3 linked regions of the Homo sapiens genome follow. The protein of the gene in region 3 interacts with the protein of the main gene of each other region in a pairwise test. Each region holds a gene or a part of one and is shown on either strand. Other genes may lie near its edges.

Region 1 (4,137 bases), on a different chromosome or scaffold from region 3:
GAACCCGTACTCTAGGGCCAAATCCATTCTTCTTGCCCTGGCTCACTTGTCCCCCCCACCGCCCCGCGCTGGAGCCACTGCCTAGTTCTTCAGCCCTAGATGGTGCTCGCCAGACCTCCTCTCAATGCTCATCACACACAGGGCTATTCCTTTCCTCCAATGAACCAAACGCCTCCCGCCCACCTCCAGGTCCCAGTCCTCTGTTCCCTTTGCCTGGTCCACCCTTGCCCTCCCTGGGTCGCAGACGAGGTCGGCCTCGTCATTCCCCGCAGACCGCCGCGCGTCCCTCTTGTGCGGTTCACCACAGTTGTATTTAAGTGATCGTGTGAGTCGTCGTTAAATGCCTGTCTCCCCGCGGATCATGGGCTCCTCGAGGACAGGGACTGGCCTGTCTGTCCACTGCTGTAACCCCGCGCCGGCATAGGGACCTAAGGCCCACTGGAGGGCGCTCATCAAGTAGCTGCTGGATGTTGACGAAGGAAGCGGCGGCGCAGCTCAGGGATCTCCGAGTCAGGACGGTCGGCCAGACCCACGGGGTAACGGGTCTAATCGTGTAGGAATAAAGCTGTATTCCAGTGCTTCCAAACGGTTCTCTCATTCCAACCCCTTTCCAAGCTCAATGAATATTCCAATCACCTCTGGTCCCTTCCAGTGACCCTGAACCGCTCAGAGAACGCCCCGTCGACACCGTTCGGGGCGGGCGCCACTACTGGCGCATGAGATGCGCTCAAGCAGAGGGTACTCCACCAGCGAGGATACACCGAGCCGACGGGGATCTCGGTCTCGGCGCCGGAAGCCTCTGAGAGCCGAATCTGGAACCGGATGTGGCTGCTTCCTGCCCCGCCCCCTGCCGAGGGGGCGGGAATCGAGGGCCCTTCGGAAAACCCGGCCGGGATTTCGGTCAGCTACATTCGTGGGTTGTGGTAGGGAGGGTAATCCCGTGGGGATGGAGTGACCGGCTCTCTCTCCGCCTGAAACGCTTCCCGCGGGAGTTTTAGCCGTGTTATTGTTGGGGAAGGGAATGTCAAATTCTGCTCCTGCCTTCCCCCAGGGGCTGGAGACTGGAATCTTTATTCCAGTTCATTGCGGGTCGACGTGGTCTCCAGAATCCCCGAGTGTAGAGGCGGAGGACAGTGGAGCTGGGGACTCGGGCGCCTGGGTCCTGGTCCCTGAGCGTCCAGCGCTCCCCTAGTCCGCGGCCCTGGCTCCTGTCCTCACTTCCTTCCCCTTTTGGCTCCTGCTCTCGGAGCGGGCGGACGCGGGGGGGAGCGGAAAGGGCGGGAGGGCCCAGGAGCCCGGCGGGGGGGTTCAAGGGGGTACGGAAAAGCCGGGGAGGGGACTCGGTCCGGGGCCGGAGACCGACGGCAACAGCGGCTCAGGACCCACGCTGCCCCCACCCCTCCCGAGCAGGTCAGAGCCTGAGCACCCTGCGCGTCCCCGTACTCGTGACCTCCTCCTTCCCCAACAGCACCAAGGGCCCCCCTATTCCACCCTTCTGTTGCCCCCTCCCCCAACCTTCCTGCAGAACTCCCTTCCGGTCTTCTTGACACCCACCCACGTCCCTTCCCTGCCCGGTTCCCCCGCGCCTGCCTGACTCTCCACCCCCACCCCACCCCGTCTCTCCCCAGGCGCCCCCATGGCCCGACCCCGCTGATTCCTTCACTCGGCCATGCTCCCGCGGCCCCTGCGGCTGCTTTTGGACACGAGCCCCCCCGGGGGAGTCGTACTGAGCAGCTTCCGAAGCCGGGACCCCGAAGAGGGTGGGGGCCCAGGTGGCCTGGTCGTGGGCGGGGGGCAGGAGGAAGAGGAGGAGGAAGAAGAAGAGGTGAGACGCGGGTGGTGGGAGGTAGGGGGCGTATGTATTTCTGAAGTCTCCACTTTTCTCTTGTCTCTGGGTCCCTACATCTCCTCCTCCTTGCCTCAGTTATTCTCGCGCCTCCCTGGGTGTCGGCCCGTTTCTCTGCTGCGGGGAGTCCTGGCGTCTCCGTGGTTCTCTGTCAGTGTGACTCAGGACCTGCCCGCAGGAACCTGCCCTGTTCCTGCCTGGAACTTCTGGCTGGCTGTCCTGTCCCTGCGGGTCTTTGGCCCTCCACCTCTGCCTGCCTGAGTGTGCCTACCTCTCTGAGCAGTCGTGTCTTGGTCCCTGTCTCCCTCCTTGTTTTTGTTTGGCGGGGAGGGGTTTGTTTCCACAGTAACCAGCTCCTCTGACTCTGGGATTGGGGAGGGAACCCTCAGATTTCGTGACCCCTCCTTCCCTCTCTCCCCCTTCCCCCCGCCCCCCCGCCCCGCCCCGGTCCTGGGTAGAGGCCGGGAAGCCACGGTTCTGGGACCTGGAGGAAAGATCCTAGGGTGGGTAGAGAGTGGTCATCTGTTTTCATTAGGGATTAATGGTGGTGGCCAGGAGCAGGATTTCGGGCCTCAGGAGGGGCCAGAATTTGGATTTGGGGCCCCGAGGCCCTAAACTCCTAGGTCCAGATCCTAGGTGAGGGCAGGTTGACTGGCAGGGCTGGTTTTTCGGGATCGGTCGGGGGAGGGGCTGGGGCCACGTGACTCTCTGAGTCTACCGCCCCCAACCCCCTATCATCCCACTTCCCCTTTTCCTTCCTGTACTGGGATTGGAGCTGCTACCTTCGGGGGTCCCTTAGGGCTGAGATAGTGGAGGCGCTACCCGAGGGACCAGGGTGAAAGGGGTCCTGAAAAAGACTAATTCTCTGGGCTGGTATAGTCCTTGGCCGGGAGGGGCGGGGCATGCGGCAGTGCCTGGACTGAGGTTTCAGCTACCCCTAGTCGCTGCCTCTGGCTTGCTGCCTCTCGCTTCCCTCTCCTGCCCTTTGTACCCTGCTTCTCTGTCGTGTGTGGGTTCAGCTCTGGGGAGAAGGGGCTTTGGGGGTCTCCAGGATCAGAATTCCTGTACTCCATCCACGCCTCCACTGCAGCCCCTTCGACTCCACCGGGGCCCTGAGGCGGCTGGGGTGGGGCTGTCTGGGCCCCAGTGGGGGAGACCTGGGGTCACCAGCTCCCCCAACCCTTCCTCGCACTCGCTGGTACTATGCCCTGCCACCACAGGTGAGGGGTACAGAGGGAGGAGCAGGGCCTGGGGTGAAGGCTGAGGGCAATGGGGGGTGGTGTGGAACTGTCTGACTTCCCCTTCCTTGCTCCTCCAGGCCCCTGTGTCCGTCTGGGATGAGGAGGAGGATGGTGCCGTGTTTACCGTCACAAGCCGCCAATATCGACCTCTTGATCCCTTGGTGAGATCATGACTTTAGCTTCTCACCTCTGACTCTTCATTCCCAGTTTTCCTTCCTCTGGCTGACTTTCTGGCCAGAGTGCTAGGTTGGAGTTCTGGAGTCCTGGACTCTGCTGTGTGACATAGGCCAAGACTCTTGCCCTCTCTGAATATCAGAAAAATGAGTCTGGAACATCTCCTGGGTCTGGGATTGTCCTCAGAAATCTAGGTGCAGAGTGGGAGAAAGGGTTAGCGATCATCTCTCTGTGTTCTCCAGGTCCCTATGCCTCCCCCACGTTCCTCCCGACGGCTCCGAGCTGGCACTCTGGAGGCCCTGGTCAGACACCTACTGGATACCCGGACATCAGGGACTGATGTGAGCTTCATGTCAGCCTTCCTGGCTACCCACCGGGCCTTCACCTCCACGCCTGCCTTGCTAGGGCTTATGGCTGACAGGTCAGAGTCATAAGGGACGCAGGGTAGTGGAGTATCTGCCCGGATTTCCTAAAGCCGCAACATCCCACCAAAATAGTCAAAGCCACTGAGGGTTTGGGAAAAATGGACAGATAGATCCTCTTCTCCCCCTCAGGCTGGAAGCCCTTGAATCTCATCCTACCGACGAACTAGAGAGGACAACAGAGTGAGTGACCCCTGGTTCTTAATCTCACAGTCCCCTCTGCCCAGGCTGCAGCTTTACCTCTCACCCTTGGCTGATTCCCTTCTCCCAGGGTAGCCATCTCTGTACTGTCAACCTGGCTGGCCTCTCACCCTGAGGATTTTGGCTCTGAGGCCAAGGGTCAGCTTGACCGGCTTGAGAGCTTCTTACTTCAGACAGGGTATGCAGCAGGGAAGGGTGTTGGGGGGGGCAGCGCTGACCTCATCCGCAATCTCCGGTCCCGGGTGGACCCCCA
Region 2 (3,500 bases), on a different chromosome or scaffold from region 3:
TACTCAGGAGGCTGAGGCAGGAGAATCACTTGAACCCAGGAGGCAGAGGTTGCTGTGAGCCGATATCGTGCCACTGGACTCCAGCCTGGGGGACAGAGCGAGACTCTGTCTCAAAAAAAAAAGATTAGACATTTATTAACTATATGTCAAGCACTATGCTCAGTTCTTTTTTTCTCCTTTAGTTCTCATGGTAACTCAATAAAATAGGTGTTATTATTATTACTACACCCAATTTACAGAAAGGGTAATTAAGAAAATATGAATTCAGGCAGTTTGTCTATGCTCACCCAGCAAGTAAGCTTGGGATTAGAATTCAACTCAAATCTGACTCTAAATCATAATCTTAATCTTTATGCCATATTCCCTCCAAGCAGTGCAGAACATATATTGAGTCCTAAAAACCTAAAAGTACCAGAAGGACAGGGAGAAGGCAGAGAATCCCTTTAACTTTACACCACTGATGCAGAGGTATGTATTGAAAAGTATGATTAGGTTGCCATGGAGTAGTTGGAAGATGTAAGCTCTATCCAGCACAGTCCATGAAGACTGTGACTCATGCATCAGCAGCCAGGCACAGTTCTGGATAAAATGGGTTATACAAGAGGGGCTGGGACAGTAAGAAAGGGAACAAGGGAGATCCCCTTCTCTATCTCTGTAAAAAAGATAGGTTCTCAACATTTTTTGAATCTGAAAGAGGGACTTGGCCAGATGTATGAAATATCAATACATGGTTCCTATTCCACATTTGCCTAGGAATACACACCAACCAGCATCACCAATGGGAGGGAGAATGTATTCAAAGTTAGTTTGTGGCTTACCAGGTCGACCTACAATGCCTCCATAAGAGCAAGAAAAACTCTGAAATAAAGGCAAGGTAGAAAGTCATGATTTCACGTGGCTTCTTTGGGAAGTTCTCACCTTCCCAGATGCCTCCACATCCTGCAACACTTGGCAGTCTAAAACCACTTCCTCCTCCATCATTTCTTCACTCCATCGTTGGCACTGAGGGTACAGATTTGTCAATGAACTATTTTATGTTTTTCCCCTTGCAATCTGGCAATATTAGCTCTCTAATGAATTGCTTCAACTCGTATATTTTTTGGACAAATGTGACTTTTAGTTGAATTGTGCAACATCCATAAATAGCAAATCCTGGCTGATTAGAATCAACGAATGCCCTTAAAGTTGCCAGTAAAAATGGGCCCTTAGCTGCATGTTACTTAATAATTTGAAAGGCATCTGATTATTTTTGGGAAAAAACCTTTTACACACACATTCTGTCATCTGTTATGTATGTAGATATGTATTTGAATTTGAATGGATTATTGCAAGCCAGCCATGTTATGAATATAAGTGCTAGATATACTTGGATTTGAAACTAAACACATCTGGGTTTGAATCCTACCCTCTGCCACTTACAAGCTACGTGAACTTGGGTACATTTCTTAATCTCTCTGCCTCTCCAGTTTCTCATATGTAGAATAGATGTAATAAATCCCTTGCAAGCTTGACTTAAGGAATAAATGAGACCACACATACAATGTACTTGGCACAGTGTCTAGGCATATTATGGCTTAATAATTAGTAACTACTATTATCATCATGATGTTCTATTAATAGAGGATTAGAGTAGACACAATTTGTGGTCTCTACCAACACTTAATCTTCCCTTTCTGAAAACTGCCACAGCGATGGGCCTCCAAAGCCATATTTCTATTACATGACCCTGCTTTAGTGATAGGGCAAGAATAAGGATACCAAGCAAATGTGAGTTTAAGCAATTTTCCTATACTCACCCAGCCATTAGGTTTTTTACACAACTTAGCAGGTTCTCTTTCCTGAAAGTTTGGATTAGGAAATAGTCCCTATTATCCCTCTAAACTAAGAAATTGTGAGGCGGTCATGTTTGGCAACATGCATGCCAAGGCACTAAAAGTCAGTCTGCAGAATGTTGTTGATGTGCAGAGAGAAGCAGATTGACTTTGACTTGAACTCAAAACAATGCCTTGGTTCCGATAATTTTCCACTTCCATGAGAAACCATCTTCCTTCCTTCCTTCCTTTTTCTTTCTTTCCTTCTTTTTCTCTTTCTTTCCTTACTACTTTGGGTGGGTTTCCATAGTCTTCAACCAAAAGATCTTTGTTAACAGTGTCATCTCTGTGCATAAGGCCACCAGATCTTCTCTGCATGGCTTGGATGACCTAAGCATTTGAAAGGTACCTGATTTAAACAAACAAACAAACCCCAAAAACTTCATACACACACACACACATGCACACATGCGTGCACACACACTTTCCTTGTTATCCTTTTTCAACTCCTGAAGAGCATTAGGTATAAAATCAAAATAATCATATATGTAAGGAAATCATGTATGTATGGAAAAAAGGGAATAACAAAAATATAAAAGAAAAAGAGCCATCAACATTCCTGATCTTACAAAAGTAGGTCATCTGATCACTTTCCAGAAACCAAGAAAGAATGGAGAGACCCCAGCTCTTTACCTGGTGTTGCACTGGATACTGTTGGCCACTGCTGATCAGGCCCTCCTGGACCAGCCCGTAGAATGCCAGCCTCCTCTAGGTGCACAGAGCTGAATAAACACACAGACCCAGATAACGGTTAGATCATAAATTCTTTCCCATCTCTTCTTCCACCCTCAGAAATTGCTTACAACTATGAAGCCAGGGCTGCAGCTAACACATTCTGCTCATGCTTGAACTGAAGCAATTACTGCTGAGCAGTCACCCTGCATAAACTGCAGAAGCATTGCTGACTTACTTATTGCCTGCTATACTATTCCAGGAACACACATGTTCTATCTTTATGGCAATTCTGTTTTTTATTAACGCCATGTGGCGCTCACTAAATCTAACAGGAAGCCCATCAGAGGACTAAGCCATTTTAACATCTCGATACTGAAGCAGATGAGGAGGGCTTGTTCTCAAAAGTTCCAAGCCTCTCTTGCAGGTTCTCTTGTTCCTAGGTTCTCTACTCTAAAGAAGAAAACACACTAAAATATTTTCTGATAATTGGAGTATTGTTCCAATTTGGCTATCTAATTAATTCTTAACCTTATTTTCTATTTTACTCTTTCTATATCTTTTATGCATAGATGACCCACCCTATATTTCCTGAGACTAGAGAAACTTGATCACCACCACTCACAGATCCCCGCTCAGAAGAGATTAATTCAGCATAAAACATTGCTGGGAGTGAGATACAAACTGGGAGACCTTTAGAGGCAAGCAGAGATAGAACATAAACTGTTCAAGGGAAAAGAGAACATGGTGCAGTATTCATTTATGTATGTCTAATACTAACTCATATTAATCTCTCAAATATTTGTTGGATGAATGAATGAATGAATGAATGAATGATGGAAGGGAGGAAGGAAGAAAGGAAGGAAGAAATAAGTGGGATCCTAAGAGAAAATGTCCAAGAAAACCCTCATCAAAATTAGAGGAACATTTTGTTTTATTTTATTTATTTTTGAGACA
Region 3 (3,500 bases):
CTAAAGTCCGTGTGGAAGTACAAATGTTTGAGATTAAAAAATAAAAAAAAAGCACAAAAAATTACCTGATATCAAAACAGTAATTTAAATTATGTGATATTAAAGGAATAGACTAATAGAACAAAATGGTATTAAGAGACACAGACATGAATTTAATATGTGATGAAGGCATTACAAATTAGGGAAAGGAAGGACTATTTAATAAATGAGACATAATAAGTGACTAGCCACTGGGAAAAAATATATTAGATCCCCTTATTGAAAACTAAATTTCAGATAGATGAAAAGCTAAATGTAAAAGAAGAACAAGCAGTTTTACAGAAAAAGGTGGGCAAATGCTATAAACAAGCAGAACACAGAAAAATAAATATAAATAACAAAAAGTATATGTAATGCTTAACCTCTCTACAAACCAAGGAAATGCAAATTTAAGTAACATTAAAATAACAATGCAATACAATTTTTTATGCCAATTACACACTCAAAAAAAAAGTCATATCCAGTGTTAATGTAGATGTGGGGAGATACAGAATGAGAATTAAAATTTTAGAGTTTGTTTTTTTGTTTGTTTTTTTTTTGTTTTTTTTGAGACAGAGTCTCGCTCTGTTGCCCAGGCTGGAGTAAAGTGGCGCGATCTCGGCTTACTGCAAGCTCTGCCTCCCAGGTTCACACCATTCTCCTGCCTCAGCCTCCCGAGTAGCTGGGACTACGGGCGCCCGCCACCACGCCTGGCTATTTTTGTATATTTAGTACAGATGGGGTTTCACCGTGTTAGCCAGCATGGTCTCAATCTCCTGACCTTGTGATCTGCCCACCTCGGCCTCCCAAAGTGCTGGGATTACAGGCGTGAGCCACCATGCCCGGCCTAAAGTTGTAGAGTTCTTTTAGAGAGTAATTTAGTATTATCTGTCAATTTTTTAATTGTAACCATTATTTAAAAGAGTATAACAATTTAAATGTTGAGGAGTTACTCTTGCTGTCTATTTTGATAAGGATATACACTTTAAAAAAAATAAAATACCTATTTGCTGCCTACAGGATTTGACAAAACACAAGCAGAAACAATTGTATCAGCGTTAACTGCTTTATCAAATGTCAGCCTGGATACTATCTATAAAGAGATGGTCACTCAAGCTCAACAGGTAATACACTGATTACTATCACTTCTGATACTTTCATTAGACAATCATTTCATAACTATGTCTCTGTCTACCTACTGACCTTCCAAACATGCTTATATCTTCCTTGTTCTCTCTAAAGGGACCACAAAAAAAAACATTGAATAAAGTCAGTATTTAGAGAGACTGAATAGTTAGAATAGTTGTAATAATATTGTGGTAACAGAGAATGGTATTTTGCCAAATCTTTGATGGGATGAGATCATTATATTGTGTTATTCATGAGTGGTGGTAGATTGTTTGTGAAACAACTTTTTCCCTCTAGAAAGCTCACCACAGAAGAGCTAATCTTTCTATATATTCAGTATATTTTATTGCTGCTATACATACACATTGGTTAATTTTCACAGACATAGCTGGAAAGGACTTAGTTGGCTGGGAGGGACTTTATAAATTCCCTGGCTAAGACGCCTTAATTTAACTGAATATAAAAATCCTTAAAGTCAAACATAAGAATTTAACATGTAAGTGGCACAATGCTATGTACTTTTCGTATATTATTTAATCTCTAATAACCTTGAAAAGTAAGCAGAATTCTATTTGGCCACTGAAGACAGGCTCAGAGAAATTGAGTAGTTTGCAAGAGTTTTCACTGTGGTGGTATGGACAAAAAGCAATAATTTTATATAAAGGACTGAATAAACTAAATGAACTTAACTGGAATAATAATTCATTTCTGTCAGTCATGAAATAATGTATTATGTTTAGGAATCTGTTTTCTTCCTATGGTTATATTTTTTTCATTTTAATTTTTCAAATTTAGGCTTCCTTCCTCAGATAAGTATTTTACAGCACAGAGAAAAATCAGGATTTCTTATATAAAATTAGAATATTTTGCATAAAATTTCATTAAAGGGTCATGGTAGATCAAAAGATCTTACAGATTTCTACTATGGCCAGGTGCCGTGGGTCACACCTGTAATCCCATTACTTTGGGAGGCTGAGGTACACAGATCACTTGAGGTCAGGAGTTCAAGACTAGCCTGGCCAATAAGGTGAAACACTGTCTCTACTTGAAAAAACAAAAAAAAAAACAAAAATTAGCCGGGCATGGTGGTGGGCACCTGTAATCCCAGCTCCTCGGGAGGCTGAGGCAGGAGAATCGCTTGAACTGGGGAGGTGGAGGTTGCAATGAGCCAACATTGCACCACTGCGCTCCAGCCTGGGTGACAGAGACTCCATCTCAAAAAAAGAAAAAAACAAAAATTAAAACTGTAATCTCCAATTATAGTAGACAAATGTCCAATTAATTAGACATTTAAAATTGAAACATTCAATCCCTACATTTAACTTACCTTTAAGTTTGTACATGCATTTTTAGGATCATAACAGACTACTAAATCCACTAAAGAAAAAGCCAAACATCTAATTAGTTACTCCTAAGCTCCGAGCTGTCCTGAAAGAGCTATATGGAGCTACTGATACTTTTAATAAAGTAATTTTGTCTTAAATTTTTAAGTTTACCTATAATATAGGGAGTGAAATAAAGCTGTGATTTGAGGAATATTTGTGCTGCCAGGACCATTTAATCCTATATACAAGAGGTAGGATTGAGTATAGAAATATCACTATTAAACTTTTGGCTTTTTTATTACTGCTGTCTGAAGTTAAATAATCCTGTTCTGTTCTTGAACCTAATTCAATTGCTGACCCCACCTCTAGTATAGAATAAGGCACAGAGATGTCATGAAGGGTGAAGCTAAGGCTCAGGGTCATAGGCCATTAAGCTGCATACTTGATCACTTCAGAAAGGGCCATATGAAAACAAGTCAGCTAGCAGGATGAGGGGGAAAAAATAAAATAATAAAGTCTTATTCTGAAAATTTGATTATATTGTGATTTTGATTAAAATCTGAATATTCTCTGATGGCTCCATAGTAGTTTAAAAAAATCACACTTTTAATAGATTTAGCTACTTAACAATGGATTATGTGTACATTTAAAGTTGTTACAGATGGACACCTGTGCAGTTTTGTAGGCTTTTTGAGTCTGTATTTAAAGGAAGAATGAGGTAAAAAGAGGCTCTTAAGAGCCACATTAAGGCTGGTGTGGTGGCTCACGCCTGTAATCCCAGCACTTCAGGAGGCTGAGGTGAGCAGATCACTTGAGGTCAGAAGTTCGAGACCAGCCTGGCCAACGTGGCAAAACCCTGTCTCTACTAAAAATACAAAAAAATTAGCCAGGCATGATGGTGGGTGCATGTGGTCCCAGCTACTCAGGAGGCTGAGGCACGAGAATCACTCGAACCCAGGAAGTGGAGGCTGCAGTGAGACAAGATTGCGCCACTGCATTCCAGCCTGAGTGACAGAGCAAGGCTCTGTC

Evidence for each region. Proteins that work in one complex are often made in the same cells at the same time.
Region 1: the proteins of CCDC90B (region 3) and RGL2 interact in a two-hybrid assay, tested with the Homo sapiens proteins (one large-scale study listed by BioGRID and IntAct).
Region 2: the proteins of CCDC90B (region 3) and PCDHA4 interact in a two-hybrid assay, tested with the Homo sapiens proteins (one large-scale study listed by BioGRID and IntAct).

The regions. Positions count from the first base shown.
Region 1 is NC_000006.12:33,296,143-33,300,279, reverse strand, and holds the start of RGL2 (ral guanine nucleotide dissociation stimulator-like 2), read left to right. Parts: upstream 1-1,337; 5' UTR 1,338-1,410; intron 1,411-1,628; 5' UTR 1,629-1,669; coding exon 1,670-1,825; intron 1,826-2,282; exon of another isoform or gene 2,283-2,387; coding exon of another isoform or gene 2,388-2,482; intron 2,483-2,936; coding exon of another isoform or gene 2,937-3,066; intron 3,067-3,164; coding exon 3,165-3,248; intron 3,249-3,503; coding exon 3,504-3,682; intron 3,683-3,815; coding exon 3,816-3,866; intron 3,867-3,954; coding exon 3,955-4,137. UniProt on the Homo sapiens protein: Probable guanine nucleotide exchange factor. Putative effector of Ras and/or Rap. Associates with the GTP-bound form of Rap 1A and H-Ras in vitro.
Region 2 is NC_000005.10:140,981,568-140,985,067, reverse strand, and holds part of PCDHA4 (protocadherin alpha-4 isoform 1 precursor), read right to left. Parts: intron 2,594-3,500; coding exon 2,505-2,593; intron 1-2,504. Other genes in the region: PCDHAC2 (protocadherin alpha-C2 isoform 1 precursor), read right to left, coding at 2,505-2,593; PCDHAC1 (protocadherin alpha-C1 isoform 1 precursor), read right to left, coding at 2,505-2,593; PCDHA13 (protocadherin alpha-13 isoform 1 precursor), read right to left, coding at 2,505-2,593; PCDHA12 (protocadherin alpha-12 isoform 1 precursor), read right to left, coding at 2,505-2,593; PCDHA11 (protocadherin alpha-11 isoform 1 precursor), read right to left, coding at 2,505-2,593; PCDHA10 (protocadherin alpha-10 isoform 1 precursor), read right to left, coding at 2,505-2,593; PCDHA9 (protocadherin alpha-9 isoform 1 precursor), read right to left, coding at 2,505-2,593; PCDHA8 (protocadherin alpha-8 isoform 1 precursor), read right to left, coding at 2,505-2,593; PCDHA7 (protocadherin alpha-7 isoform 1 precursor), read right to left, coding at 2,505-2,593; PCDHA6 (protocadherin alpha-6 isoform 1 precursor), read right to left, coding at 2,505-2,593; and 4 more. UniProt on the Homo sapiens protein: Calcium-dependent cell-adhesion protein involved in cells self-recognition and non-self discrimination. Thereby, it is involved in the establishment and maintenance of specific neuronal connections in the brain.
Region 3 is NC_000011.10:83,276,368-83,279,867, reverse strand, and holds part of CCDC90B (coiled-coil domain-containing protein 90B, mitochondrial isoform 1 precursor), read left to right. Parts: intron 1-1,038; coding exon 1,039-1,142; intron 1,143-3,500.